Linked DNA regions of Homo sapiens: regions 1, 3, 4, 5 and 6 are each linked to region 2. Evidence: fine-mapped expression QTL. A gene starts in region 2. Each other region holds a variant in brackets. All regions are shown on one strand. Distances are from middle to middle.

The links. PIP is the estimated chance that this variant, and not a neighbour inherited with it, causes the effect.
Region 1: its variant is fine-mapped to the expression of RELT in whole blood (INTERVAL, PIP 0.96).
Region 3: its variant is fine-mapped to the expression of RELT in whole blood (TOPMed, PIP above 0.99).
Region 4: its variant is fine-mapped to the expression of RELT in whole blood (INTERVAL, PIP above 0.99).
Region 5: its variant is fine-mapped to the expression of RELT in whole blood (TOPMed, PIP above 0.99).
Region 6: its variant is fine-mapped to the expression of RELT in whole blood (TOPMed, PIP above 0.99).

The regions. Positions count from the first base shown.
Region 1 is chr11:73,395,101-73,400,174 of GRCh38, reverse strand. It overlaps RELT (RELT TNF receptor), which reads right to left. Exons shown (of 11, transcript NM_152222.2): 10 at 4,890-5,074; 11 at 2,701-4,731. The coding sequence ends at 4,684. Among named protein-coding and RNA genes, the nearest start is that of RELT, 21 kb to the right of the region's middle. The variant C/T (reference allele first, on the strand shown) is at 2,535.
Region 2 is chr11:73,373,816-73,378,889 of GRCh38, reverse strand. It overlaps RELT (RELT TNF receptor), which reads right to left and starts at 2,491. Exons shown (of 11, transcript NM_152222.2): 1 at 2,391-2,491. RefSeq lists an enhancer at 1,512-1,806 and silencers at 1,972-2,051, 2,142-2,431, 2,462-2,771.
Region 3 is chr11:73,590,759-73,595,832 of GRCh38, reverse strand. All of the region lies in intron 1 of FAM168A (family with sequence similarity 168 member A), which reads left to right. Among named protein-coding and RNA genes, the nearest start is that of FAM168A, 4.8 kb to the left of the region's middle. The variant A/G (reference allele first, on the strand shown) is at 2,237.
Region 4 is chr11:73,411,469-73,416,542 of GRCh38, reverse strand. FAM168A (family with sequence similarity 168 member A) reads left to right here. Exons shown (of 8, transcript NM_015159.3): 5 at 5,007-5,074. Among named protein-coding and RNA genes, the nearest start is that of RELT, 38 kb to the right of the region's middle. The variant T/C (reference allele first, on the strand shown) is at 2,762.
Region 5 is chr11:73,540,537-73,545,610 of GRCh38, reverse strand. The region is part of intron 1 of FAM168A (family with sequence similarity 168 member A); the gene reads left to right. Among named protein-coding and RNA genes, the nearest start is that of FAM168A, 55 kb to the left of the region's middle. The variant C/T (reference allele first, on the strand shown) is at 2,058.
Region 6 is chr11:73,557,302-73,562,375 of GRCh38, reverse strand. All of the region lies in intron 1 of FAM168A (family with sequence similarity 168 member A), which reads left to right. Among named protein-coding and RNA genes, the nearest start is that of FAM168A, 38 kb to the left of the region's middle. The variant A/G (reference allele first, on the strand shown) is at 1,978.

The DNA of each region.
Region 1 (5,074 bases), 21 kb before region 2:
GCTCACTGCAACCTCCACCTCCTGGGCTCAAGTGATCCTCCCACCTTAGCCTCCTGAGTAGCTGGGACTACAGGCGCACACCACCACTCCCAGCTAATTTTTGTATTTTTTTGTAGAGGCGGGCTTTCACCATGTTGCCCAAGCTGGTCTTGAACTCTTGGGCTCAAGCGATCTGCCTGCTTCAGCCTCCCAAAGTGCTGGGATTACAAGTGTGAGCCACTGAACCCAGCGCCCTGAGCTTTCTTAAAAGATGGATTTGTCAGATGGGAAACCAAGGGGCACTTGGTGGTTTGTGGTTACAGAAAAAGGACAGCTGAGGGAGGCTCTGGCGCCTTCATCCAAAGCAGTCCCATCAAGTGCTATCAGTTTTGCCTCCTAAACATCATCTGAATCTCTTATCTCCCCTCTGGGTGAAGCCACTGCCCTAGCCCAGGCCCAGGCTTCTCTTACTGGGTTATCTGTCCACCATTCCTTCCCAGGGCCGGGCCCCTACAGTTCATGCTCCACATCCCCATAGCTATACCTCCAAGAACTCAGCCTCCTCACCTGGAAAGGAAACAGGCCAAAAGAGGCCAAGTAGCTTGGCTCACACTGCAGCTGAAATGAAAACTTTTAGGCCTCCTTACTCTCTAATGCCTCTCACCAAATCTCACCGTGTGCCTCCACCCAGCCTCCCTTCCTGTCCTTGATCCAATATGAAACCCACCCCCAGTGTCCGAGGGGGCACCTCTGGCCACAGGCATTGTTGGGGCTGAGTCACCATAGTCAGTTTCTCCGGTGCAGGAAGGGATTTTCTCCCAGAGGGAGGCTCAGCTCCAGGTCACAGTGGCAGAGCTGAGGGCCAGGAGCAGGAGGGGAGGTGGAGACTTGGGTCCCAGCCCCTACCATTCTGGCCCATAGGGAAGAGGGGTGGAGCACAGAGGTCAAGCTCAGAACTCTTCCCCTCAGTGGTCAGCCCAGAACCCCACCCTGTCCTCCAGCTCCCACCTCCGCGTGGGCCTCTTGAACTCAAGCGCTGACAAAGCTTCAGGGATTTAGATGGAACAAGCCAGAAAAGCTTCCAGGTGAGGGTAAGGACCCTGAAGACCAAGGGCATCAGACACACTCCTACTTGAGCCCTCAGCTCTTCATCCCACTCTTGCAAGCTAGCCTCAATACCCCAAGGGACAGGTGAAGAAACAGGCCAGGGCCACACCTTTCAGCAAGCAGAAATTGGGGAGGGGGAGTCTGGAGGAGAGCACAGTGCTTACTGTGAGGGGGCGCTCAGCCCTGGCCTGGAAGCCTGCACCCAGCCTTGGTGCACCCTGGCTTGCATGTGTATGTACCTCTGCCCAGGCGAGACAGGCAGGCTGTGGAGAGGGCATCTAGACCCCACAGCCCAGCCTTCCCCTGGGGAAGGAGGCTGAGGGCCAGTCAAGGTGGAGAGGCCAGACCCTGAGATGCAGCTGAGCAGCTGGCAAATAGGGACTCCAAACACACTCTGGCAGCCGCAGGAAATACTTATTTGGGTACACTGGTGATGCCTGCTAGTCCCCTACAATGGACACCCTGTCCTACACTTTGGCATCCTTTTCTGCTCCAGAACATCCCTCCTGATGTCCAGCCTCTGTTTCCTTCCCCTCTTCTGGTGCAGGTGAAACATCTCCTGGATCTTCAGAGGTGTCCCTCCCCTTCCTGCCCACCTGAAAAGCCCTGGAGAGAGACACCTGTGCCCTAGGTACCCAAGGAGAGTCAAATCCCAAAGCACATCTGCCCAGGGTAGGAGGAGGCCCCCAGCTTGGCTTCTGCTCAGGAGAAAGGCCCCTGCCCCCTGTGAAGCCAGGCCTCCCGACAGCCCCAGCATGGCCGCCCCATAGCTGCCCTGTGCCTGCTGCAGACAGGCCGGGGACTCCCACAGGCTGGTCCTCTCCACACCTCCCCAGGTTCCATCAGGTGTCACTCTTGTTCTTCAGCCTCTCTCTGAGGCCGTTAGTTTAAATGTGTCCCTCTCTCCCGTCTTTAGACAACATAACAAACAATAAAACCCTAAATTAACTGAAAATTGTCTCTCCCCAGAGCCTGAGGCCCCACCCAGCTATGGCCTGCCAGGCTTCGGCAGGGAGCTGTCTCCCTCAATCCACCTGGCCCTGGCCCTGGTCTCCCCTCTCCCTTTAGGCGAATCCCACCAAGTTCCTGTGCCACTCACCAGGGCACAGAGCAGTCCTCCTCACCCCCCAGCAGCACCTGGCCTTGCAGCCCACCCTGCGCCCACCCCTCCCCTGGCTGCCAGGACACTGCCACGGACGTTGCCCTCCCTGGTTTCTTTCCTGCCTCCCTAGCAGTGCCTTCTCTGTGGTGCCCTGGAGCAGCCCAGGCATCGTCCCCAGGACATTTCCTCCCAGCCCAGTCCTGGCCTAAACACCCACCTGAGTGCCTGTAGGTCTTCTTGTCTCCAGGTCTGTCTCCTGAGAGCTCTGGGCCTTCACATCTGGATGGCATGGGACATCCTCCATGGCTGTGTCACAGGTGCCCCCAGGACTGCTCCTGTTGCCCCA[C/T]CCAGCTGGCCCTAAGCCCCCGACCCATTTCCCATTACCAAACCCTAGCACAGGGGTGTCCAATCTTTTGGTTTCTCTGGGCCACATTGGAAGAATTTTCTTGGGCCGCATATTAACACTAACAATAGCTGAAGAACTAAAAAGAAAAGAAAAAAGCAAAAACATCTCAATGTTTTAAGAAAGTTTATGAATTTGTGTTAGGCCCCATTCAAAGCCATATCCTGGGCCACATGCGGCCCTTGGGCCGGGTTGGAAGCTTGCCCTAGGAATTTTAGATGGAGACGCTCTGTCTTGCCGGGTGTAGCACCCGCTCCTGTGGCTCCTTTCCTCTCCACACTGGCCAAGCAGGAGCTGAATGCTTTGGAGGCTCCCTGGGCATAAGGCCCAGGTGACCACTATGTGTTGGTGCTCAGCCTTTGCACATGCTGTCCCTCTCTGTGGAACACATTCCCTGGCCCGCACATCTTCCTCACCCCCAATTACCTCCCGGGCTCCACACAGTGCATTTCCTCAGGTGCTGCGCTGACCAGTGTGGTAGCTGCTGGCCACGTGGCTATGGAGCCCTTGAAATATTTGAGTTCCAATCAAGATGTGTAAGATACACTCCAGATTTCAAAGCAAAAGCAAAAACAGCTCATTCACACTTTTTATACTGATTTTATATTGAAATGAAAATATTTTGGATAGACTGGGTTAAAAAAAAATTAAGTTCACCTGCTTCTTTTTACTTTTTGAAATGTGACTGTCAGAAAATTTAAAGTCACATATGTGGCTCACACTATTTCTGTGGGACAGCCCTGCCTCTAGCTAGGGGCTTTGGTGAGAACCAGATGAGTTGATGGGTCTCCTCTGGGCCCTGCTTCCCTGGCTGCTGAGGTGCAGGAACTGTGAGGGGAGGGCAGCCTGTCACGGTGCCCAACACAGGGCAGGGCTGGACAGGTACAAGTGGAACAGGCGGATAAGCTGGGAAGGGCACAGAGAAAAGGAGCTCCTCGTGACAGCACTTTCCCACCTTTTATTATTCAACACATGGAAGGGGGTGGAGACACAAGGATAGGGCAATGGTGAGTTTCAATAAATAAGAGAAACAGGATGGACAGGCAGTGGGCCCATGCCTGCACGGCCCCACATAAATAACCAGGTTGCTGAGCCAGAGTGGAAGTCAGGGCTGGGCCTGGCAGCCGCCTGCACTGCCCAGAAGCACTGGCACCACAGGGACACAGAAACCACTGAGGCCCAAGGTGTGCTCCAGCCCCACCAAGTCTTCTCCCTAAAGCTCCTGAGATCTTGGGGCTGGCTGGGCAGGCTAGGGCTCTGTATCACAGTCCTGCCGGGATCAAGTCTATTTTTTCAGTTTCATTAAAAACAGCTGGGGGAGGGGCAGGCACATGCATTAAGCCCCTTCCGTAGGCAGAGCCATGGATGGACAGCCCCATGGGGGCCTTGAAGGCAGAGGCCCTGGAAGCAGCAAAAACGGGGCTGGATAAAGCTACTAATGGGAGGGATGGTAGAGCCCAGCTCCCCAGTCCCCCACAACCCAGCCCAGAACCTACAAAGAGCTGAAGAGGCCCTGGGTACTGAGACGTCTCTCCTTACTTCACAGTCAGAAAAATGGACCCAGCGATGGCCACAGATGTGCCCAAGATTAGAACCCAGGGACTCACTCTCCTAGCCCAGGACTTTCTGCTACCCCTTCCCTTTATAGACCTGCTGGAAGAGGAGGGGGACGCACATCTGCTCTAGGGCCCTGTACAGAGGCAAGGGTGTGGCTAATTACCAAGGAATGGGGCCAGGGGTGACGGGCACAGGCCCCTCCCCTCTGCCAAGCCCAGCCTCTGATGATACAGAGAATCCCGTGGGCTCCTAGGATCCAGCCAGGGCAGGCACGGGGGTCGGGGCATCCTTCAGGGGAGCAACATGGCAGCAGGGCCAGGGGCGGGGCTCAGCCTGCTCCTGTACACAGTGCCCGCCGGCCACCTGCCTCCTCACTGGGGCAGACGCTCCCACCTCCAGGCCTTGGTCTTTGCTGTCTCGTCTGCTGGGCCATTGCTTCTCGGTCCTCACAGTCCCAGCTGCAGCTCCACCTCCTCCAGGAAGCCTTCGGAACCTCCCAGGGCAGGGCCGCAGTGTCCTTAGACTAGACCGCCCCTCAGATGACCAGGTTGCTCTCACTTAGCCGGACCACATAGCGGTTCTCCTGGTGGGCAGGGGTGAGGGGTCAGAGCTGAGTCAGGGGCTGGCTTCTGGCTCCAGGAAAGTGGCCCCTGCCTAGGGCCCGCTGCACTTCCACCCCTGCCCCGTCTTCGGTCAGGGTTGGCCCAGGTGCCAACAGATGCCTTTCTCCTTGACTCTCACCTCGGCCTTGTTCTCTGCTGGGGGCTTCAGCCACTTTGTACGGCTTCCGCCACTTCCTAGCAGGGCCTGCTGCTCAGGGGGGAGGCCAGGCTGTGGGGAGTCAGGGAGATCACCCCACGAGGGCCCAGCCTCCGTGATGGTCTTCACCTCAGACACCATTGAACTTGTCCGCTGCTCAGGAATTC
Region 2 (5,074 bases):
CTCAATTTTCCCTGCTACCCCTAGGCTGTGCTGCTAACTCCATACACTCTTCAAAGCCATGGGGACACCCCCAAAGCCAGGTCCAGGCTCTAGAAGGCAGGGGACAGGACTTTCTGGTGATGTCTGGTTGGGAGTGAAGTCTGGGGAGGAACAGGAAGACCATGTAACCCACCCATCCCCAGTGTTCCAGACATGTGTGCACACACACACATCATACTTAGAACTCACAATGTAATGCCCTGGCTAGGCCACGCCTACTAGCCCAAGTTTGAGAGACAGAAGTCCAGGAAAGCCATGAGCAGTTATTAGGAAGGTGGGTGATCCTCTCTCCCAGCATCTCACTGGTCTCTGGGGTCAGAAGACCTGAATTCCAGTCCTGGCACTGTCCTGACTCTGTATGACCTTGGCCAAGTCACTTTGCTTCTCTGATCCTCAGTTCCTTTCTCTGAAACACAGTCACTACATCTCAGAATCACTGCGAAGATTCAACAAGACAGAACACCATGAAGTGTTCAGAACAGTGCCTGACACTGTCCCCCACCCTGTCCCCCACCCCTAGAATGTAATCAGCATTTTCAGAGGACGACAGCAGAAGACAGAACTTCCAGATTCTACAGCAAGTGCCACCCTCTCCTAGACTAGGGAGCTCAGCTTCCACCCCACCCTGCATGAACCCCACAGACCTTCATACGGGAGAAGGGGCCTCAGAAGGGTCTTGCCCAGATGGCGAAAGGGTACCGCTCCAGCTCTCCAGCAAGAACTTAGCCTCCCAGACCAGAGACCACTCCTGGGGAACAAGTCTCTCCCCACTCTCCCCCAACCCAAGGAACTGAAGAAAGGACACCCAGGCAGAGAAGTGAATGTCTATGGATTTGGGGATCCATATTGTCTATGGATCCATTTCGTGACAGAGGACCAGGAAGCCTTTGGGTGGGAGGCTAACGTTTCCTTGACCAGTTTTGGAGAAGGCTGTGCTTCCAACCCTATCAGTAGCCCCTGAGTGCAGCCCCTGGGCCGCTGTGTCCCCAGGAGAAGCCTGCCCCCACCCCCCACTGCAGTCTTTCTGCCTGAAGGGAAGGGAGAACACAGGCAGTTGACCCAAAACAATAGAGGATCCCAAAGTGATGATTCACAGTCCATTCAAAGCCCAGCACCTCAGTGTGCAGATGGGGAGACTGAGGCCTGCGCGGGGGAGGGGGGCGGGGGGGTCTGAGAACAAGATTGTGTCCGGGTCCGCTGAGAATACAGATTACACAGGGGCAGAACTTTGCCAGGTGTAGGGACTTCGATGCGTGAGTGTGTGGATGCAGGTGGGCGGGGGGAAGCTGAGACTACCACAGGGCCCCTACCCTGCTGCCATCTGGGCCACCCCACCAGATGTTGCCCAGCCTCGGCTTTCTCCCTCAGCCAGGGCCTATCCCTCAGGGTCCATCTCCTCACCAAGCTGAACTCCTGAGGGGTGCCCTCGTGGGGACAGTCCTGGAGACCCTTGTCTCCTGGCTCCCCAACTTCCTCATCGCCCCACATCTGCCGGAAGGTGTCCTAGGTCCGGTCCCTCCTCCTCCTGCCTCTTACTCATCATCACCCTAGGCGCAGACACACACACACACACACACACACTGACACCACTTGACCCCACACGCACACCATGGCGCCAGCGAGCTCGGCTCGTTCTCAGTCACTTGGGCTCCTCTCCCTCTATTTCACACTCACAGTAACGGGTGGCCCTGGCCCTGCGCCGGTCACGCCCCAAGCCACGCACTTCGTGACCCCAGTGACCCCGGGTCTTTCCCTCACACAACACACGCACACACGCTGCCTGTCTCCCACACACAGAGCCCCTCTGTGTCGCCCGCTCGGCCCGGCGTCACCGCCCAGTGTCCCAGCCACACGTTCGCCCGGCCAGGCCGCCTCACGCGCCGTGTCACCCACAGTCACGGGCTGACACCATCCAGACCCCCCCTTGGCCGCCCCGCGCCGCAGCCGCGCCGAGGCGCCGCCGTCCAGCCCGCACCACAACCTGGTCTCGGTCCAAGTTTCCCGGGCCGGGGACCGCTCCGGGCCCCGCCGGCCCCTCACACCGCAAGTTCCGCTGCTTCCCCGCGCGCCCCCCGACAGCCACCACGCAGGGCCGGCCCGGAGTCGCGGCCGGAGGACCTGCAGGTCACGGGGCTCGGAGACTGGCGGTGGCCGGTGCGCGGAAGGCGCCGGGACAGGACGCGAGGCGGGAGGAGTGGGGTGGGGGGGCGCGCGGCCGGGCTGCCGCATCCGCCGAGCCCGCGAACTTCCTCAGAGACACGGGGAGGCAGGGGGCGCCACTAGGGTCCGTATCCCGCTGGCCCGGCCGCGGAGAGCAGACTCTGGATGGGCGCTCCGCGCGCCCTCCTTACCTGGCTGCGCCGCGGCAGCTCCAGCTCGGCTCCCCGTTCGACTCGGCGCCGCGGCCCGGCTCGGCGAGCGCCCGGACAGCCGCGCAGCCTGCGCGCCTTTTGAATGAATCGCCGGCTGGGCCGGGAAGGTGCGCAGACCCGCCCCCGCGCGTCACGGCCGCTCCGCCCCCGACGTCAGAGCGCGGTCTGCGCCCCGCGCCCGACTCACCCCGAGCCGCGGAGGGGCTCGCCGCTCTGCCGCTGGGCGGTGCTGCTCTACGTCGCCCTCTCTCGCGCCCCTGGGAACTGCAGGGGGCTGCGCGGGACTGGGCGGCGGTGCCCAGAGGGCCTCTTGTATCCGCCTCTTCAAGGCTCTGAACCAAGCAAGGAGTTGTGCGAAGCAAGATAAAGAGACTGGAGACTGAGATACTCCTCTGGGTCCTCTCAGCATTGCCAGTGTAACTAGAGCCACCTCTGCCCCTTTCTGGGCTTCATCTTCCTCCTGCCAGTTGGTGGCCAGGAAGAATAACCTCACTTTGCTTTGTTGACGAGGCCCAGGCCCAACCCTGGAAACCCTCACCTAGTTGGCGAAAAGGCCTGGTGAAGGTGAGTCTATAAAGGAAGCCCACACGGTGGGCTTCGGCACATCCTTCAAGGCCTAGTGAAATCCTCCAGGAGGCGTCTCCTGCCTCCACTCCCCTACTCCCCGCACCACTTCTCTGTGCCAGGGTAGTTAGTTTCCCTCCAGCAGGACAGGTGACTCAGTGCCCCCCTCCCTACTACAGCCATCCCACCCTGCCAGTTTCCAATGCCAGTCATCACAAACTCCAGGCAGTATTCACACTGTATTCCGACTCCGAATCGTGTCCCCTGGAGTTGTGCTACAGGGTGTGCCAGGACTGGAGGGAGCAGCTCAGTGGCCCGTTCCCCCTCTCAGTACTATTCAGGGGATCTCAGGCGGTCCTCCTGGGACAGTAGGGCTGATGGGAGACTGAGACACCAGGGAGGACCTAGTGCTGGGCCAGAGGCCTGGCTGGGGTCAGGATAATCACAGCCCATGACAGAGATGGAGAAAGGAAGGTAAATAAGTCAGCTGGGGATAGATGGCTGGGGGTGGGGTTCTAAACAGTCATAGAATCTGAACCCAGGGGCTAGGAGACGGAAAAGGTCAGGTCCCCAGGGTCCAGGAGATTCCAGGAGGCGAACTGGACACCGCATGGGGAGGGGAGCAGGGGATGAGTTTTCATTTCCCTGGGTCATGCTCAGGTTGTGGGGGAAGGGCATAAGGAGCTACAGGTCATTGATGTCAGGATCATGACATCAGCACCCTCATATGTCAATGGAGACCTCCAGGGCTGGGGCAGGGGTTCTTCCAGGGTCCCACATCCCAGCCTACGGAAGGCCAGAGCATCCAGAATGCCTCCACTCCTGGAAATGTTTTCTTTGTAAGGGGACCATCTACACCCCAGCTCTAGGTTCTAGAGTTCAAATGGTGGCAATTTCAGGTGTCGTCACTCAATAAACCAAATGGGGAAGGCCAGGTGTAGTGGTCACACCTGTAATCCTAGCACCTTGGGAGGCTGAGTTGGGAGGATCACTTAGCCCAGGAGTTCGAGACCAGCCTGGGCAACATGATGAAGCCCAGTCTCTACAAAAATATGTGGGAGAATCACTTGAGCCCAGGAAGTTGAGACTGCAGTGAGCCGCGATCGTGCCACTGCACTCCAGCCTAGGTGAGAGAGTGAGACCTTGTCTCAATCAATAAACTAAATGGGGAAATGCTTTTTGGAGCACTGGCTATTAATCAGACATCCCAGAGAGGGTCCAGGCCCCTCTCTACCACCAGCTCTCTGTGAGGTTTTCATCAAATCCACCCCCAACTCAGTTTCCTCATCTGAAAACTGGGGTGCCAGACATGTTGCCTGAAGTTCTCTGTGGGAGGCGGCTACCTGGCTGCCCTGGCAGCAGCTCCATAGAGTAGGTCTCCTGGGGCCACAGCCCAAACACTTCTCGCTCCTGCAACCCCCAGGTTAGGAGGGAGCCTAATTATTATTTACTGCTGGGTGGATGCGCCAGCTCCTCCTGCAGCCAGCTCTGACCCTGAAACCACTGTGACGTGGGCTCCTCCCTGAGAGTCTACCAGCATCTGGGTTGCTCCACAGTGAGTAGACAGGGAAGGAGTTGTGGAAGCCACAGGAAAGATTTAGACTCGCTTTTTATGGAGCTTGGGGAACCACAGGCTTGAGAACAAAGGACTCTCAGAATCACAGGCTTTATAAAATCCTGGCATCTCAACTGAACCCATGGAGTCAGCACTGGAATCCCTGAGCTCAGGGACCTCAGAGACCATCTTGTTGAACTTCACATGGTACAGCTGGGCAAGTGGGCCCAGAGAATGTGTGCACCTCATTGTAGGTACACAGCACAAGGTCCCAGTAAACTGGGACGAGCTGTGATGGGGACCTGGAGGCAGGGGTACAGGTGCCATGCCCCAGCCAGGCCCTGCCTGGGGTGGGGATCCTGGGTCACAGAATCAGAGCCACCACAGTGTGGCTGTATGCAGGGGTCTGAGTAGATGACTGCCTTGGAGTCATGGACCAAAGGTAGTGGGTGCCACTCTGCTTGCTGGCTGTGCTAGAATTCCAAAAGGAAGTACATACAGTACAAGCCTGGAGGAACAGCAGGCTCATACTTAAATTTCAATG
Region 3 (5,074 bases), 220 kb before region 2:
AAGGAATTCAGGTGATCAGAATTCTGTCAGATGTGAATAAATAAAGCATATTGAGTCATTTTTATTTTATTTTTTGGGGAATGATGTTGATGTAGTCGCATTGTATTAACTACAGAAACAGCATCTCCACCTATTCATCAGAAATTCGATTTAAACCTTAGCGATATGCTCATTCTTAGGGCAGAACGATGATAATGGAAGGTACACAGGAGTGCAAATGGAGGGAACATCTTTAGAGAAACAGTTCTATGGACCTAATTGCATTAACTGTGATAATATGTTAAACATAAAGTGGCTGTTGATTAGAGCTCAGACTGAAAAAAAATGAGGAGGGATGTAAAGAAGATAAAATTGGCACCATTGGGATCGAAATAATTCTTTTTATTTTTGTTCAAGCTTCAGAATTTAGCTCGCAAACAAACCATTTTCCTTGGCTTTCACGATTGAGCATATAAAAATACCATTTAGAATCTTTTTTTTTTAGCTCCAAAATGGGCAGAATGATGGAACGTTGGACTTATCCTTTGAATTGAAAGTGTTTTGTAATGAGGAAGCTTTCTGTATTATAATAAAGATCAGGTTTGAGCAGTTACCTGTAATTCAGTGAGACTGTAATCTAATGTGAGCATTTCTCTCATAACTTTACTCTGAGGTCTAGACGTTGTTTTTGCAGATCTGCAGGCTTGGTCTAGAGGTGGGATGTTTATATTAAAGCCCTAGCTTTTGAAAGCCCAAAATGAAAAGTGCCTGGGAGAAATGTGTTGGTGGATTTTTTTTTTCCACAGCCGTGGTTACCTGTGTAGTAGTAATGTGTTTTTGTATCTTTACCTCATTTGATCCTCCCGATATCTTGGTGAGAAGAGAGCAGATGGAGGTATTGATAGACAGAAGCCTTTGTGGAACGAATAGCCCATGAGTTTAGGAGTTGAGTCCCAGATTCAAATCCCAGTTCTACTACTTGAAAGCTGAGTGATTTCAGTCAAGTCATTAAAAACCTTTCAGATGGCCAGGCGTGGTGGCTCACGCCAGTAGTCCCAGCACTTTGGGAGGCCGAGGTGGGTGGATCACTTGAGGTCAGGAGTTTGAGATCAGCCTGGCCAACATGGCAAAACCCCATCTCTACTACAAATACAAAAATTAGCTGGTAGCACGTGCCTGTAATCCCAGCTACTTGGGAGGCTGAGGCAGGAGAATTGCTAGAACTGGGGAGGTGGGCAGTGAGCCACGATTGCGCCATTGCACTCCAGCATAGGCAACAAGAGCGAAACTCTGTCTCAAAACAAACAAACAAAAAACAAACAAAAAACCTTTCATATTTAGTGGTAATGGCTGCAAAACATTGTGAACATAGTTAATACCACTGAATTGTACACTTAACTTTGGTTAAAAAGGTAAAAATACACACACAAAAAAACCTCAAAAACCAAAAAAACTGGCCAGGCATAGTGGCTCACGCCCATAATCCCAGACTTTGGGAGGCTGAGCTGGGAGTATTGCTTGAGCCTAGGAGTTCGAGACCAGTGAGGGCAACATAGGGAGACCCGTCTCCACAAAAAAAAAAAAAAATTTGCTGGGTGTGGTAGCGTATACCTGTAATCCCAGATACTCAGGAGGGAGGTGGGAGGATTGCTTGAGCCAGGGAGGTCAAGGCTGCAGTGAGCCATGATCGTGCTTCCCTGCACTGCAGTCTGGGTTACAGAATGAGACCCTGTCACACAATCAAACTTTCATACTTCACAAGGCTGTCAAGGGGAACAAACCAGTTCATGTCCTGAAAACACTGTACATATATGAAATATCTGTTCACTATTTATTTATTTAATGAATGTCTGCTAAGTGCCAGGGGAAATAAAAATGAACAGAAAGCAGTTGTCAAGGAGCTTTCAGTGTCATGGGAAAGATAGACAAATACGGTGAGAAAAGTGAGGCAAAATGAATGCTATGGTTAAATGTGGGTTTTGAAGTCTGTCTACCACTTACTATTAGCTGTGTGACGTTGGGCACAATGGGCTCATCTGTAAAGTGCGAATAATAGAATTAACATCATAGGATTGTTTTGAGGATTAAATAAGATAATCAATGGAAAGCATTTCACACAATATGTTTTATAGTACACATTAAAAAAATTAGTTGTTGCCTTTATTGTTAGAAAGATAGGCAGAGGCTAGAATGGTGAATAGCCTTGTGTGCCCTACCAATGAGTTCTTAGTATTGTGGTATTTATTAATGAGGTATG[A/G]TTTTGTTTTATGATCTCATGCATATTTGCATGTTTACAGTCTAGGAACTTTAAACAGTTCTTTAAATGCCAAAGTCCTAAACAGATGTTAGCTGTTAGCTTCCTCATTAATAAAATAAGAAGAAAAATTATGCTCTGAGAGGTTAAATGACTTGTTTAAGGTTACACAGTCAGTGGAAAAGTCTGGGTTACAGCCCCCAAATTCTAATTTGTCATCCCCATTTATATCCTTTTTTTAAATTGTAAAATATGTCATATGTATAAAAGTATATTTAACATAAACCCACAACTTAAAGAATAACAAATTGAAGGCTTTTCTACTTGCTACCCAGCTTAACAAAAAGGAGATTTCTAGTACCTTTAAAGCCTCTTGTGAGGTCCTACTTGATTGAATCTCCCATCTTCTCTCTCCCTCAGAGATAAACAGTTTCCTAAATTTTATGTGAATCATTTCTTTGCTTTTCTTTATACTTTTACCAAATATGTGCATATCCCTAAACAGTATATTTTTTACCTTTGCAACTTTTTATAAATAGAATTATAGGATAAATATTCTTCTGACTTGCTTTATTCTTATTCTTATTTTTTAACTTTTAAAAAAGCTTTATTTCTTCCACCATTAAATAATGTGTGCTCATGATAAAAACTAGAAATTACAAAAAGTAAAAAGAAGCATAAGTATTGTTTTTAGTCCTATTACCCAGTAACACTTTTTTTTTTTTTTGGTAGAGACAGGGTCTCGCTATGTTGTCCTGGTCAAGTGATCCTCCTTCCTCGGCCTCCCAAAGTGCTTACAAATGCAGGCATGTGGCACCATGCCTGGCTGGCAAATGCTTTTTGTAGAAAATATTTTGTGCCACATATGGCCTCTGTTGTTCTTTCTCCTCCCTTCCACTCCCCTTCCTTTTTGTCTCCCCATCTCCCTCCCCGTTCTTCTCCTTCCTGAAGCCCCTCCTCTTGCTTCTCCCCATTCCTTCTTCTCCCTCCCCTTCTCTTTCTCCTCCTTTTATGTGGTTTTAAGAATGTAAAACTCACAGGCCATACAAAAATAGGCCATGGGCGGGCCATAGCTGGCCGACCCCTGGTACGTTAACAGAAATCAACTCAAAGTTGTAAAATATTGAAGAGGAAAGAGACTAAACCAAGTTCATATTTCTTTCTCTATTTTGTTAAATTTACTTCCTTGGACAGTTATGCATATCTTTAGTATTGAAAACAATGGTATAGAATTTTTTTGTCAAATTATGTTTATCTAAAAGTTTAACATTTTATTAAATGAGCCATTATTTTCTGTATGAAGACACTCTGAGAAAACCTCAGTTTATAAAGTTCCAATACACCTCCTCCTCCTGCCAGTTAGGCAGGTGTCTGGGTCCTTTCAGAATATGCCTATTTTATGATGATATAGGTTGTGCTTTTTCTTAGATATAGACATTTTGAAGGAACCCTGAGATGATATATTTTTCACAGTAAACTTCAATCCTTGGCTACTTGAGATTATGATCTTGATTTGCCTTCTGATCATGTCGCTCAAGCTTGACGATTTCTGCTAACTTGTATTTCTTTTCTAGCCTCTGTTTTATAATTTTTCTAAGTATTTTAGTTTTCTAATGTGTCTTCCTCTATCTTTTATTTTGAGTTGATAGCAAATGTCTCTATCAGTAGATAACAGCTATGCTATTTATACTTATGCAAATATAATGGCGCCATTTTATATATAGTTCTTAGGTTGGTCATGTGGCATTATTTTCATTTTAAGGATGAAGAAATTAAGACTCTAAGAGGGTAGCTGGGTGCAGTGGCTCACACCTGTAATCCCAGGATTTTGGGAGGCCAAGGTGGGAAGATCGCTTGAGCCCAGGAGTTCAAGACCAATCTGATCAACATAGTGAGATCCAGTCTCTACAAAAAACAAAAATATTATCTGGATGTGGTGGCGTGCACCTCTGTTCATAGCTATTTTGGAGGCTGAGGTGGGAGGATCACTTGAGCCCAGGAATTTGAGGCTACAGTGAGCTATGATCATACCTCTGCTCTCTAGCTTGGGCAAGACTATATCTCAATAAATAAATGAATAAAAAGATTCAAGAGGGTAATTTGTCTTAGGCCATAAGACAAGTAGGGAATTAGCAGGGAAAGACAAAAGGTACCTAACATTTGAGTGTCTATGGCAGGCAGTATGCTGGGTGCTTTCTTTTCCTTATAGATAGAATTTAATCCTCATATTTGTGTCGTATAAGGAATTGTGATCATTTTACAGAAGAAGAAACTGAAGCAACTGAGGCATATAGTGATTAACTAGTTTGCATTTGTTTACATAGCTAGTAAGAGAAGAAAAGCTCGTATTTAAAAACCTGATCTGCCTTGCTCCAGAGCCATTGTTCTTTTTGTTGTACTGCATATAAATCTTCCTGGTTTTAAGCTGTTAAATCAGTAGTCTTCTTTTTTTTTTTGAGACAGAGTCTCGCTTTGTCTCCCGGCCTGGAGTACAGTGGCACGATCTCTGCTCACTGCAAACTCTTCCTCCCAGGTTCAAGTGATTCTTCTACCTTAGCCTCTTGAGTAGCTAGGACCACAGGCCCGTGCCACCATGCCCGGCTAATTGTTTGTATTTTTGGTAGAGATGGGATTTCACCATGTTGGCCAGGCTGGTCTTGAACCCCTGACCTCAGATGATCTGCCTGCCTCGGCCTCCCAAAGTGCTGGGATTACAGGCGTGAGCCTGCACCCAGCCTAATCAGTAGTCTTCAACCTATTTAGACAGGTAGTATCTGGCTACTCTTTAGAATCACCCGAGGAGCTGTTTAAAAAAAAAAGATATGTGTCAGTTCTACTCTC
Region 4 (5,074 bases), 38 kb before region 2:
AGTTCAATTTCACTGATACTTGCTAAGCCTGTTTGTAATTAGGTCTCCTGCTGATTCATCACTGTCTCACTTGGCTACCAACAAGGAGTCTTAGGGGTCAAAGCAAGATTCAGACATAGAGCTTTATTTTGTCCAGACATATAAATCTGATGATCAATAAACCAATTAGTCTAAAAGGCATCCGTGATGCAAGGATCAAGCCTTTGAAGGTGGTAGGGCTTCTACAACTGAAAAAGATTTATGACAGTGAAAAAGGATTGCAGAAAGCGCTGAAAAGGTTTTATCTTGTTAATGTACATACTCTTTTTATTATCCCATTTGATTCTAAAATTATGGTTAGGAACCTAAGAGAAAGAATAGGACATCATAAACAAAGCCTCTTTTATAAGGCAGAGCTGGGACTTCGAGTGATCTAATTCATTTTTTCTTTCATGATATTGCCTTTAGTGAAATGGGGACAACAAAGGCCAGTATATTAAATGCCCAAGATTGGACTACAGAGACTTTAACTCAGCAAGAGCTCTGCCTAGGGCAGGGTGAGCCCTGAACTTTGGGCCTAGCTGTGTACTGATGTGCTGTACAATTTGGGGAAAATCTGTCCTTCTGGGCTCCAGGTTCTTTCTCGGAAAAGGAGGAGGTTGAATATAAACCTCTAATGTCCTTCAGGCACAACATTCCAAAGTCTTAATTCTGTGACCTTCAGACTTAGAATTCCTTTCAGGATAGCCAGGCCTCCAGTGAGTGAACTGAGTCTAAGTTCATTTGGGCAAAATCTGTGAGACTTTTTTGCAACAAGCCCAACAGCTTCTTTTACTTAGATGCATAAAGTAATAAACCCTGATTTTTGTGTCACCCAAGCTCAGGCTATAGCTCCAGGGGAATTTTCAGTGTTCCTCAAGAGTATTGACAGGACCACTAGTAAATTATGGAAAGTCCTCTGAAATGATTTCCTCATGAAAGTCTTCTGAAATACTCAGAGACCTAGAATGTCAGCACTAGAGAAGTTCTCTGATACTGTCTAGTCCAAATGAGGATATTCCCTGAGAGGAATTGACCTGACTTACTGACAGAACCTAGGATGAGGGCCCCCAGGCAGTTTCTCCAGCCTCATGAAGATCCTCCTGACAAATGGTAACCTTGAGAACCACTGTGGTTAGAGGAAGTAGCACTGAGTCTTAGATCCCCACAAACAGCTCTCTCTTTCAGCAACTACTCATTATCTCATCTGTGAAATGTTTACGTTGGTCTTAATGATCTCTGAGTCTTCTAGCTCTGCAGTTCTGCTTCTATCTCAGACTGTCTGGACAAACAAGCAAGGCCTTCTTCTGCAGCATCATCTCTTTGGCTGCCAAGGGTGTTTTGGCTACTGATTTGTATTCTGAGTATGTGTGTGTCTCATTTCATAACATGAAGAAAGGGAAACATTCTCAGACAAGGTTATTCTTAGATGTGGGAACCAAATTCTACTGCAGTCTCTTGGAGCTTTTTGATTTTCCTCAGAGGGATAGTCTCACCACTTTGTAATATGGCTGTCCTTGTGGCATACAGTGGGTAATCCAGCTTCCCCAGGGAAGAGAAAAATTCCAGAGCACATTCTCCAGGAGCATAAAGGAAAGTCATCAGCATCTTTGGCCTGTTAACTTTAAAGAATCATAAAATCATGGCATTTTAAGCCATAACATTTTAGAATCTTAGAATCCTGGAGTCTGTGTTCCAAGCTGGGACAGACCATAGTAGTCATAGATTAGCTTTAGTCTCTCAGACCAGGCTCTGCCTGCATACCCTTAGGACAGAAGCTTACTGTCCCTATAAAGTGAGAGAGAAAATAATAATAGCTGATCTTTATAAAGTGCTTCTAATATGTCAGGTACTGTTCTAAGTGCTTTTTACTTAACAGTTAATGTATTTATCACAATGAAGTAGGTACCATTACTGTTCCCATATCACACGCGAGACTGATGTATCCTATAGCTATTAAGTCTCAGAGCTGGGGGTTTGGACCCAGGCAGTCAGTCTGTCTCCAGACTGCTCATAACCATGGCTCTGTGCTACAGAGCTTTCAGAAACAGGCACCTTCTGATTCAGGGGTGTCCTACTCTCCTGCATAGAAAAGGGATGCTTTCAGCTCTGCTAGGTTTCTCTACACCTTGATATATTCCTTTAAATTAGGGGTCAGCAAACATTCCTGTAAAGGGCCAAATATTTAGGCTTTTAAAAAGGCCATATGCTCTCTGTCAGTGACTACCATTGTAGCAGGAAAGTAGCCTTAGTCAATATGTAAATGAATGGATGTGGATGTGTTACAATATAACTTTGTTTACCAAAACTAGCTTCAATTACAAAAAACATGGCTGAAATTTAATTGTTTTAAATGTTTATAGTATGAATAAAAGATTCTGTGGTAAAATTAATTTGGAAAATACAGTCTTGTACATACTCCCATCTTAGAGATTCACAGTTCACCTCCCCACCTTCTTTAAGAGACAGGGTCCTGCTCTGTCACCCAGGCTGAAGTACAGTGTTGTGATCATGGCTCACAACAGCCTTAGACTCCTGGGCTCAAGCCATCCTCATGCCTCAGCCTCCCAAGTAGCTGGGGACTACACCAGCCACCATGCCTGGCTAAGTTTTTTTCTTTTTTTAGAGATGTAGTCTGTCTGTGTTACCCAGGCTGGTGTTAAACTCCTGGTCTCAAGTGCTTCTCCTGCCTTGGCCTCCCAAAGTGCTGGGATTATAGGTGAGAGCCATCACATCCAGCCCA[T/C]CCTATTGTTTTAAAAACTTCTCAGGGTCATGGAATAAAAACAAAATCTTAACTGTTTATCTCTATTTTACATATGGGACTATAGAACTCTTTTGTTTCCTTTTCTTTGGCAAAAACAACTATTAAGATCCCTTGGGATCTATAGTACGTTGTCCACATTTGGGAAATGTCTATCTCTGGTTTATCTATAAAACCCCTTTATTTTATAGATAAGTAAATTGTGTCTCCGTACACATCAGATGGTTCCTTCTAGACATCTGCAAAGCTAGTCTCCCTGTCTTCCCCCACAGTATCTGCTTCTCCTCCTATGACCACATTTCATCATTAGCTCCATAATCTAGAAACTTTGAGAAATCTGCTCTAGACTTCTCACTCAGCTCATAGTTGCACTTCCAGTTAGTTTCTACTTCTCTTTAACATGCTTCCCTCTCTTTCATATGTACTTTCCATTCTATCCTCATTGTTACTTATTTCCCAAGCATATTTGATCACAAAACTATGGAAAAAACTATGGATCTGCAGGTGAAAAAATAAATGACGTGAATCCAGGAACAGGCTGACTTTTGTGGCAGCTGTGCAGCAGCTCTCCTATCCTCCTGAGTCATCAGGGGCAGGGGGGTGCTAAGCCAAAGAGGTGTGATGTGGACTGAGAAAGATTTGTGACCATGTGGTAGTTTGCTTTTACTTGGGGTTAAGGTAGAAGAGACCCAGGATCTTTAGAACCATGGAATTTTTGTTTAGGAAGAGATCTTCATTCTTAGCCACCTGATTTTACAAAATAAGAAACTAAGGCCCAAAGACTTGACAATTGTCATGAAAAATTAGGGGGAAAGCCAGGACTGAAGACTAGATGTCTTCTCTTCCAATAAAGCACTCCCTCCACTCTGCCCCTAGTCCCTTATTATATGATAGAAACAGCACCTCGGAGCTGAAAGGGTCCTTGGTGAGCATCTTATAGGTGAAAGAGCTGAAGCCCAGAGAGGTTCAGTGAGGTCTGCTAGACTTACCCAAGATGGAACCACAGGAAAGAAGCCACCTCAGCACCTCCCCAGCAGGGCTTCAAAGCCTAGGTCCTCAGGCACTGTCCCTTCAACTTAGAAGAGTTTAGAGTCTTTAGGAGAAGTTATTAAAAAGACTTGCCTTTTCTGAGCCCAGGATCCCCTTGTGTAAAGTCCAAGGATTGGAGTCCCTTGATGATCACTTGGGTTCCGTAGAACGATTCCATTTTGTGATTCTAAAAGGAGACAGTGTTGTTCCTGAATGACTCATGTTTCAAGTTTTTTTCTGTGAACAAAGGATCTGTCACTCTTTTCCGGAGGATTAAAAGGCAGCACAGTTTATTTACATGGGCAATTGTGAGCTTCTTGGGGCCTGACTTCTCAGCCCCATTCTTAGCTCCAGCTTTTGTCCATCCTGCTGAGGGACAGACATGGCCCAGGTTCCAGGTTGATGTGAATCTTTGTGATCCCTGACTTCAGGTATTTTCAGGCAGAGGTGGCCTTCCCCTAGAGCCCAGGAGAGAAGGAGGAGCCAACTCTGCAGAGCAAAGTTTTTCAGCATCCTAGAAGATGACGATCTCTGAATGGTGTTTTGTATGGTCAGCATCCCAGAAGATGAGGGTCTCCGAATGGTGTTTTGTATGGTCAGCATCCCAGAAGATGAGGGTCTCCGAATGGTGTTTTGTATGGGGTTTTCACCTTCAAACTTGGTGGGGAGGGGAGGGAACATGATGGAGGGAAGTCCAAGAAGAGAGTGAGAGAGAGAGAGATAAGGAGAAAAAGAAATAGAGCAAAAGAGAGAAAGACAGAAACAGCAGCAAAAAGATACCCTGGATTCTGTGTGAGAAGACAGAAAAGCAAGTAGAGTAGCAATAAAGAGCAAGTGAGTTGAGGGTTTCCATCTCTGTGCACCTGCCCATTTCACACAGACAGCTCCAAATCCCAGGCTGTCAGAGCTAAAAGGGACCATGTGGTTCTAGCCTCTTATTTTATAGATGAGAGCCCTGAGACCCAGAGAAAGAAAAGATGCCCAGAATCATCCATGCAGCCCTGTGCACCAGGACTGAGGGAGCTGCCTCTGGGGCCAGGGCTTTCTGGGTGGAGCCCTGTTCTCTGTTTGTTCTCATCTCTGTTTCCAGCCTGGATTCAGCCCATCTTTGTCTGGGGAGTCGTGACTGGGACCTGCTGCCTTCTAGCAATGCTTTTCTGCCAACTAACTGGAAGTCTCTCTTATTGCCTTGGTACAGGATATACTGCGGGGACACCATACAAGGTCCCACCGACCCAGAGTAACACTGCTCCACCCCCCTACTCC
Region 5 (5,074 bases), 170 kb before region 2:
TTACTGAGATATAATTCATATGCCACACAATTCACTCATTTAAATTGTATAGTTGAGTGGTTTTTAGTATATATAGAGTTGCATAATCATTACCACAGTCAGTTTTAGAATATTTTCGTTACCTATTGGAAACTTGTACCCTTTAGCAATCACCCTCTGTTGTCCCCTTCTCCACCAGCCCTAGGCAATCACTAACCTATTCAGGATATTTCATATAAATGGAATAATATAATATGTGGCCTTTATAGCTAGCTTTTTTCATTTAGCTTAATATTTTCAAGGTTCGGCTGGGTGTGGTGGCTCACGTCTGTAATTCCAGCACTTTGGGAGGCCTAGATGGGTGGATCTCTTGAGGTCAGGAGTTAGAGACCAGCCTGGCCAACATGGTGAAACCCCATCTCTTCTAAAAATACAAAAATTAGCTGGATGTGGTGGTGCATGTCTATAGTCTTAGCTACTCAGGAGGCTGAGGCAAGAGAATTGCTTGAACCCAAAAGGTGGAGGTTGTAGTGAGCCAAGATTGTGGCGCTGCACTCCAGCCTGGGTGACAGAGGGAGACTGTCTCCAAAAAATATATATATATTATATATACTATATATATAGTATATTATATATACTATATATAAAATATATTATATAATATATATTATATATAATATATTATATATTACATAATATATTTTATATTATATATAATATATATTATATAATATATTTTATATTTTATATATAATATATATAATTATATATTATATATTATATATTTAATATATATTATATATAATAAATTTATTATATATGATATATAATTACATATATAAAATATATAATTATATATAATTATATATAATTACATATAAAATATATAATTATATATAATTACATATAAAATATATAATTATATATAATTACATATAAAATATATAATTATATATAATTATATATAATATATGTAATTGTATATATTTTTTCAAGGTTCATTCATGTTGTTACATGTATCAGTACTTCATTCCTTTTTATTGCTAAATATTTCATCATATGTATATGCCACCTTTTATTTGTTTATCAGTTGATGGACATTTGGATAGTTCCCACTTTTAGCTATTATTTGTAATGTAGCTGTGAACATTAGCATATAAGTTTTTATGTGGACATAGGTTTCTTATTTCTCTTGGGTATACATCTAGGAGTAGAGTTGTTAGAGCATGTGGTAACTCTATGTTTAACCCTTTTGAGGACTTGTTTTCCACAGTGGCTGTACCACTTCACATTCATTCCTACCAACAGTGTATGAAGGTTCCATTTTCTTCTCCACATCCTTGTAATCACTTGTTATTTGTCTTTTTTCTTTTAGCCAACCTACTCAATGTGAAATGGTATATCATTTTGGTTTGATGTGCGTTTCCCTGGTGGCTAATGATGCTGAACATCTTTCATTAGCTCATTGCTCACCTTGTTACTATTTTTTTTCTTTTTTAAGAGACTGAATCTTGCTTTGTCACTCAGGCTGAATTGCAGTGGTGGGATCATAGCTCACTGCAGCCTCAAACTCCTGGGCTCAAGTGATCCTCCTGCCTCAGCCTCCCAACTAGCTAGGACTACAGGCATGTGCCACCATACCCAGCTAATTTTGTTTATTTTTTGTAGAGGTAGAGTCTTGCTATGTTGCCCAGGCTGGTCTCTTAATTCCTGGGCTTGAGCAGATCTTCCTGCCTTGGCTTCCCAAAGTGCTGGGATTATAGATGTGAGCCACTTTATGTATCTCTTTGTGCTTTACTACCTAGCTTGGTGATATCCTTCTTTATTAAGATGGTACTCTGCACCCAAAAGAGCTTATTAATACTGATTTGTTAGTTGATTATAAGAGAGTCCCAGAGGAAATAAATATAGCTTAATCTTATTATTTTTCCTTCTTTTGGTTACTTCTATCAGGTTAAATTGAAAGTACTCAGTTAGCATATCTAGAAAATGGCCATTTTCAAAGAATATTCAGTCTGTTTAGAGGAAGACCCGATTGAAGACTTAAGATATAGTTAAAGAACAATTAATGGGCCGAG[C/T]GCGGTAGCTCATGCCTGTAATCCCAGCACTTTGGGAGACCGAGGTGGGTGGATCACCTGAAGTCGGGAGTTTGAGACTAGCCTGGCCAACATGGCGAAACCCCGTGTCTATTAAAAATAGAAAAATTAGCTGGGCATGGTGGCGGGTGCCTGTAATCCCAGCTAGTTGGGAGGCTGAGGCAGAATTGCTTGAACCTGGGAGGCGGAGGTTGCAGTGAGCTGAGATTGTGCCACTGCACTCCAGCCTGGGCAACAGAGCAAGACTCCATCAAAAAAAAAAAAAAAAAAAAAGAACAATTAATGGCTGAAGTTGATTACTAGTATTGATTATACTTACAATATGATCTTAGCTCCGGGGATACAGCAGTGAATAAAATAAAGTCCGTGCTTTCAATTGTGTCCTAGTAATAGAAAAAAACAGGCAGTGTATGGGAAAAGGGTGTGATTGAAAGGGTAGGAGCTATTTTAGATATAATCAGTTAACTTAGGCCTTGCTGATGAGGTGAAATTTGAGTAGAGATCTTAATGAAATAAAGGAGCAAGTCATATTGATAATTTGAGGGAAGAATTCTTTAGGCAGAGAGAACTGTAAGTACTAACTCCTTGAAGTGAGAATGTACTTGGTTTTTCAAAGAATAACGAGAAGAGGAGAATTTTCCCGTTGTTCAGCTTAAGCGATCCAAGGCTTGCATATTCTTCTTGGTGTCTGTGCTTTTGGCCCCCTCAGAATGGTTTCTAAACAACACAAATGTTGATGCTAAAATTTAATTTTACTGTAGTATGGAGCAAGGAGGAGAGTGCTATGGGGTAAGATTAGATAAAGGGAGCTAGATTACCTGGTAAGTCATGGTAATGACCTTGTATTTTACTCTGAGATGATAACTCATTGCAGGGTTTTCAACAGAGTGGAGTTACATGCTCCAAACTTTATTTAAAAGGATCATTTTGGCTTCTGGGAAGAGAGAGACAGGATAAGCAGATGGCAAGGATAGAAGCAGGGGCTGTTACAATAGTTAAAAACAATAATGAAGACTTGAGTCAGTGTAGTAATGGCAAGAAATGGTTAGAATCAGCATGTGTTTTGAAAGTAGAACTGACAGAATTTGCTGATAGATTAGATGAGGATTATGAAAGTAAGAAAGTAGTCAAAGGAGATTCGGAGGTTTTTGCCTTGAGCAACTACAAGATTAGAATTGCCACTTATAGAGTTGGGAAACAGTGGGAGGAGCAGGTTTGCAGGAAGGAGTTAGACATTTGGTTTTGGACATATTACATTTTTACAATGGTTATTAGATAACCAAAAGATCTCAGGCAGTTGGATATACAAGTCTGAAATTCAGAGAAGTTCAAGTTGGAGATAATAAATTTGGGAGTAATTAGCATATATAAAGCCATGGAGTAGATGTGCTCACCTAGGAAATGTGTGTACTTAGAGCAAAGAAGAGATCGGACTGCCAAACTCTGGACACTCTAACATAGAGAAGTTGAAAAGATCAAGGGAGTAGCCAGTGAGGTAGAGGAAGAACCTAGAGAAAGTGGAGTACCAGAGATCAGGTAATCTGTGTTGGGTAATGCCAAGCAAGTCTCCTAGTGTGATCATCTGAAGTCCTAGAGTCTAATTATGGTTTGGTTTTAAATAACTGGGACATTGGATAGTTCACTTTACCTTTTAGGGCCTTGGGGTGATCTCTAAAGTGAAGGGCTTAAGTAGATTGTCTCTAAACTTTCTCCTATCATCATCATAAACATCATAAACATTCTATAATACTTTATAGTTTACACAAAGCATTTTCATAAGTTTATCTCATTTAATCATCATAACAAATCTATGGGACCTAGATATTTATACCTGTTTTACAGATGAGGAGATTAAAGAAGTTTAGGAGCCGGGTGCGGTGGCTCACGCCTGTAATCCCAGCACTTTGGGAGGCTGAGGTGGGCGGATCACAAGTCAGGAGATCGAGACCATCTTGGCTAATGTGGTGAAACCCTGTCTGTACTAAAAATACAAAAATTAGCCGGGTGTGGTGGCAGGCGCCTGTAGTCCCAGCTGCTCGGGAGGCTGAGGCAGGAGAATGGTGTGAACCCGGGAGGAGGAGCTTGCAGTGAGCCAAGATCATGCCACTGCACTCCAGCCTGGATGACAGAGTGAGACTCTGTCTCAAAGAAAAAAAAAAAAAAGAAGTTTAGGCACTTGTCTAAAGTTACACTATCATAATCAGTGAGAAAGTTGAATGCAGTTCTGCCTGATCTCAAAGCCTGTGGTCTTTCTATTATATAGCAACTACCTTTTTACACTAATATTATAGAGCTCTGTGATTGTGAGCTTATTTATTTATTTATTTATTTGAGATGGAATCTCACTCTGTCACCCAGGCTGGAGTGCGGTAATGCATTCTTGGCTCACTGCAACCTCCACCTCGCAGGTTCAGGTGCTTCTCCTGTCTCAGCCTCCCGAGTAGCTGGGACTACAGGCACGCACCACTACACCCAGCTAATTTTCGTATTTTTAGTAGAGAGGGAGTTTCAGCATGTTGGACAGGCTGGTGTTGAACTTCTGGCCTCAGGTGATTCTCCTGCCTTGTCCTCCCAAAGTGCTAGGATTACTGGCACGAGCCACCGTACCCGGACTAATTTAATTATTTATTCAATGAATATTTGATGAGCACCTGCTCTAGTGGTCACTGCTCAAAGTGCTGGAGATACAGTTGTAACCAAGACAAAGTTCCTGCCCTCATAAGTCTTTCATTCTAGTGGGGGAAACTGACAGTAAACAAACATGTTAATAAAGAATATAATGTAAGGGCCATAATAAAAAATAAAGCAAGATAAGGAAACACCATATGTTGGGATGATGATCAAGAAAAGCCTCTCTGAAGAGATTGCATTTGAGCAGAGTCCTGAATGATTTTAAGTAGTAAGCCATGAGAAGATATAATAGAAGGGAGTTCAGCAGAGGAAACAGCAAGTAGAAAGATCCAGAGGTAGGAATGAGCCAGGTGCATTTTGTGGAATAG
Region 6 (5,074 bases), 180 kb before region 2:
TAAGGACCTGCTAGATAATTTGCATATATTATATAATCCCCAAAAGAACCTTTCAGCGTAAGTGTTACTATCCTCATTTATGATGAGGGTCAGAGAGATGAAGAGAGGTCATACAGCTGTAAATATTCCCCTGTAGGCTGGGTGCGGTGGCTCACGCCTGTAATTCCAGCACTTTGGGAGGCCAGGGCAGGCGGATCACGAAGTCAGGAGTTTGAGACCAGCCTGACCAACATGGTGAAACCCTATCTCTACTATAAATACAAACATTAGCTGGACGTGGTGGCGTGCGCCTGTAATCCCAGCTACTCAGGAGGCTGAGGCAGGAGAATTGCTTGAACCTGGGAGGTGGAGGTTGCAGTGAGCTGAGATTGCACCATTGCACTCCAGCCTGGGCTACAGAGTGAGACTCAGTCTTTGGAAAAAAAAAAAGAAAATCCTCCTGTAATGTTTTAAACCACAGTCCTAAGATTGCAGAATTGAAATTCAAGATCAAGAATCGTATGGGATAAAAGGGTATTAAAATTATCTAAAAATTTATTTTTATTGTCCAAAGTGACTAAAGTGTCACTTTTACCCCTTAGTTGATACAGATATAAAAGTAAAAGTTATTTCAGTAAAAGAAGGGAGGCCTCATAAAGATCTTGGTTTGTGAATTAAAAAACAAAAAAGTGAATGACTCTACTTATATGATCAGATGCTTAAAAAAAGAGTGAATGGCTATGCCATTTCTAGTTCTCTATGGAATAATTTTAATGTACTTATTAGGGACAGAGTAGCATTTACCACGTTTGTGTGGTCTTTGTATTTATTCCACAAGGGATTGAGAGTAGTTTACAAAAGTAATCTAATAAAATAACCTAAAAAAGAAAAACCCTGAGTACTATTGAAAATAGAATAATATATATATATATATGTCTCCCCAGTTGCTATAGGTGAACTACAAATTTACCCCTGAATTTCTTGGAAGCCTAGGAGAGAAGGATAACTTTTTTTATTTTGAGATGGAGTTTCACTTTTGTTGCCCAGGCTGGAGTGCAATGGTGCGTGATCTCGGCTCACTGCAACCTCCACCTCCCAGGTTGAAGCGATTCTCCTGCCTCAGCCTCCTGAGTAGCTGGGATTACAGGCACATGCCACCACGCCTGGCAAATTTTTTGTATTTTTAGTAGAAACGGATTTCTCCACGTTGGTCAGGCTGATCTCGAACTCCCGACCTCAGGTGATCCGCCTGCCTCAGCCTCCCAAAGTGCTGGGATTACAGGCATGAGCCACCGCCACCGCGCCCGGTCTTTTTGTTTTTTGTTTTTTTTTTTTGGGACAGAGTCTTGCTCTGTCACCCAGGCTGGAGTGCAGTGGCGCAATCTTGGCTCACTGCAACCTCTGCCTCCCAGGTTCAAGCAGTTCTCCCAGCCTCGGCCTCCTGAGTAGCTGCAACTACAGGTGTGTGCCACCATGCCTGGCTAATTTTTGTATTTTTAGTCGAGACATTTTCACCAGGTTGGCCAGGCTGGTCTTGAACTCCTGGTCTCAGGCTATGTGCCCGCCTTGGCCTCCCAAAGTGCTGGGATTACAAGTGTGAGCAGCGATGCCTGGCTGCATGTTTAGTTTTATAAGAAACTGCCAAATTATTTTCCAGAGTGTCTGTACCATTTTACATTCCTACCAGAAATGTATGAGAAGTCCAGTTTCTTTGCATACTTGTCGGCATTTAGTATTATCACTGTTTAAATTTAGCTGTTTTAATAGGTATGTAGTACCTCTTTCAGTTTTTCTGAGTGAGTACATTTGTTTTTAGCACATGGCAGGTTGATAGCCTTAGTCAGGTTTAGCTTTCAGATTTGCCATGTTTGTACCCACTGCATTTAAGTTTTTATTTCTTAATGTACTTTACATTCTGAAGGCTTACAAAGCTATTGAAAACTTTTCTCAGTATTTTTTTTCTTAGTTTTTTCATGTCTCCTGATCCCAGCAACAGGT[A/G]TCTTCACACACCTTAGCAAAAGTACCTTCATTGGAGACTGGGCATGGTTGCTCATGCCTATAATTCCAGCACTTTGGGAGGCTGAGGTGGGAGGAATGCTTGAAGCCATAATTTCAAGACCACTTGGGCAACATAGTGAGACCCCATCTCTTTAAAAAAAAAAAGCCAGGCATGGTCATGGTGGCACATGTCTATAGTCTCAGCTCCTCAGGAGGCTGAGCTGGGAGGATCGCTTGAGTCCGAGGGGTCGAGGCTGCAGTGAGCCATGTTCATGCCACTGCACTCCAGCCTGGGAGACAGAGTGAGACTCTGTCTCAGAAAACAACAACAAGAAAAAAACCTTCATTGGCCTTTTCTTAAGTGAGACTAATTCTGTGGATATAACTGCTTGGATTTATTTAATGCTGCAGTAGTGGTACTGAGGATTTTGTTTACATTGTTCTCATTTGTGGCAACTCCTCAGTGCTGTTTTTTTTCCTGCCAAGAATCAAGCAATGCTTGATTACAACTTGGCAATGGGAAGAAGAAAGATAACAAAACAATTTTTGGGAAGTTTGTGTGAAGGGAGGATTCTCATTATTGACTGAGGGATTGAGGTGAAATTTATATATCATTGTTGAAATTAACCACTTTAAAGTGAACAATTTAGTGGCATTTAATACACTCCCAGTGTTGTGCAACAACCATCTCTGTCTAGTTCCAAAACATTGATCACCCTAAAAAGAAGTTCTGTATCCACTAAACAGTCATTCCCATTCCTATTCCCTCCTAGCCCCTGGCGGCAACTAATCTGCTTTTCATCTCTATGGATTTACCAATTGTAAATATTTTATATAAAAGAAATCATATAATGTGTGGCCTTTTGCATCTGGCTTCTTTCACTCAGAATAATGTTTTTGATGTTCATGCTGTAGCATGTATCAGTACTTCATTACTTTTTTTTTTTGAGACAGTTTCACTCTTGTCGCTCAGGCTGGAGTGCAGTGGTATGATCTTGGGTCACTGCCAGTGTTGCCCAGGCTCGATGCAGTGGCGCGATCTCGGCTCACTGCATCCTCCGCCTCCTGGATTCAAGCGATTCTCCTGCCTCAGCCTCCCGAGTAACTGGGATTACAGGTGACTGCCACCATGACCAGCTAATTTTGTATTTTTAGTAGAGACAGGGTTTCATCATGTTGGCCAGGCCGGTCTCGAACTCCTGACCTCAGGTGATCCACCTGCCTCGGCGTCCCAAAGTGATAGGATTACGGGCATAAGCCAACACGCCCGGCTAGTACTTCATTACTTTTTAAAGCTTTTTATGGCTGAGTAATATTACATTGTATAGATATGCTACAGTTTGTCCACTGATGGACGTTTGAGTTGTTTCTATCTTTCGCTATTGTGAAGGTGCTGCTATGAACATGTGGGTAGATGTATTTATTTTAGTACCTGTTTTAGTTCAGTGTATACCTAGGAATGGAATTGCTGGGTCATATGGTAATTCTATGTTTAACTAGCAGAGGAGCTGCCAGACTTTTCCATAATGGCTGCACCATTTTAACATTCCCACCAACAATGTTTGAGGGTTCATATTTTTTAACATCCTTGCTTATACTTATTTCCTTCTTCTTTTTTAAAAAATAAATAGCTATTGTAATGAGTATGGCATAATATATCTTATGGTTTTGACTTGTATTTCTCTAATGATTAATAAATGATGTTAAGCATCTTTTCATCTACTTGTTGGCCATTTGTATACCTTTAGAGAAATACCTATTCATGTCCTTTGCCCATTAAAATTTTTTTTTTTTTTGCCTTTTTGTTGTTGAATTATAAAAGTTCCTTATATAGTCCGGATTCCAGACCTTTATCAAATATATGATTTCCAAATATTTTTTCTTATTCAGTGGGTTGTCTTTCCACTTTTTTTTTTTTTTTTTTTTTTTAGAGACAGGGTCTTGCTCTGTTGCCCAGGTTGGAGTACAGTGGCATGATCATAGTTCACCGCAGCCTTGAATTCCTGGGCTCAAGTGATCCTCCAGTCTCAGACTCCTAAGTAGCTAGGACTACAGATGTGCACCACCATGCTTGGGTAATTTTTCTTTTTTACATTTTTTGTAGAGGCAGTGTCTTGCTATTTGCCCAAGCTGATGTTGAATTCCTACCTTGGCCCTTCTAAAGTGCTGGGATTGCAGGTGTAAGCTGTCACATTTGGCCTCTTCACTTTTTTGATAATATCGTTTGATGCACAAAAATTTTAAATTTTGATGAAGTCCAGTTTATTTTTTCTTTGATTGCTTACTTTGTTGTCATAGTTCAGAATCCATTGCCAAATCCAAGGTCATGAAGATTTATCATGGTTGTATCCCTTATATTTAGGTCTTTAATTTTGAATTAAGTTTTATATGTGGTTTGAGGTAGGGGTCCAGCTTCATTCTTCTGCCTGTAGATATTCAGTTGTCCAAGCACCATTTGTTGAAGAAACTTTTCTTTTCTCATTGATTAGTGATTAGTCTTGGCATGTTGGTTGAAAATTAATTGGCCAGAGATGTATGGATTTATTTCTAGACTTGTGATTCTGTTCCATTGGTCTATATACCTGTCCTTATGCGAGTACCATGCTGTATCGATTACCATAGTTTTATAGTGAATTTTGAAATTGGAAAGTGTGAGTCTTCCAACTTTGTTGTTCTTTTTCAAGATTATTTTTGCTGTTTGTGGCCTCTTGCAATTCCATGTGAATATGAGGACTGGCTCTTCCAGTTCTACAAAAAGAGGTTTTTGGACTTTTGATAAGATCTGTAGATTGCTTTGGAGGTGACATCTTAACAATATTAAAATTTCCAATTCATGAATACAGGATTTTTAAATTAATAACTTAATTTTGGCCAGAGATGGTGGCTCATGCCTATAATCCCAGCACTTTGGGAGGCCAAGGCAGGAGGATCGCTTGAGCTCAGGAGTTCAAGACCAGCCTAGGCAACATAGTAAGACCCCATCCCTGCTAAAAATTAAAAAAAAAAAACTTAGCCAGGAGTGGTGGCACTATTGTCTTAAACAGTAACTCTCATTTCTCCCCTACCCCAGCTCCTGGCAACCACCATTCAACTTTGT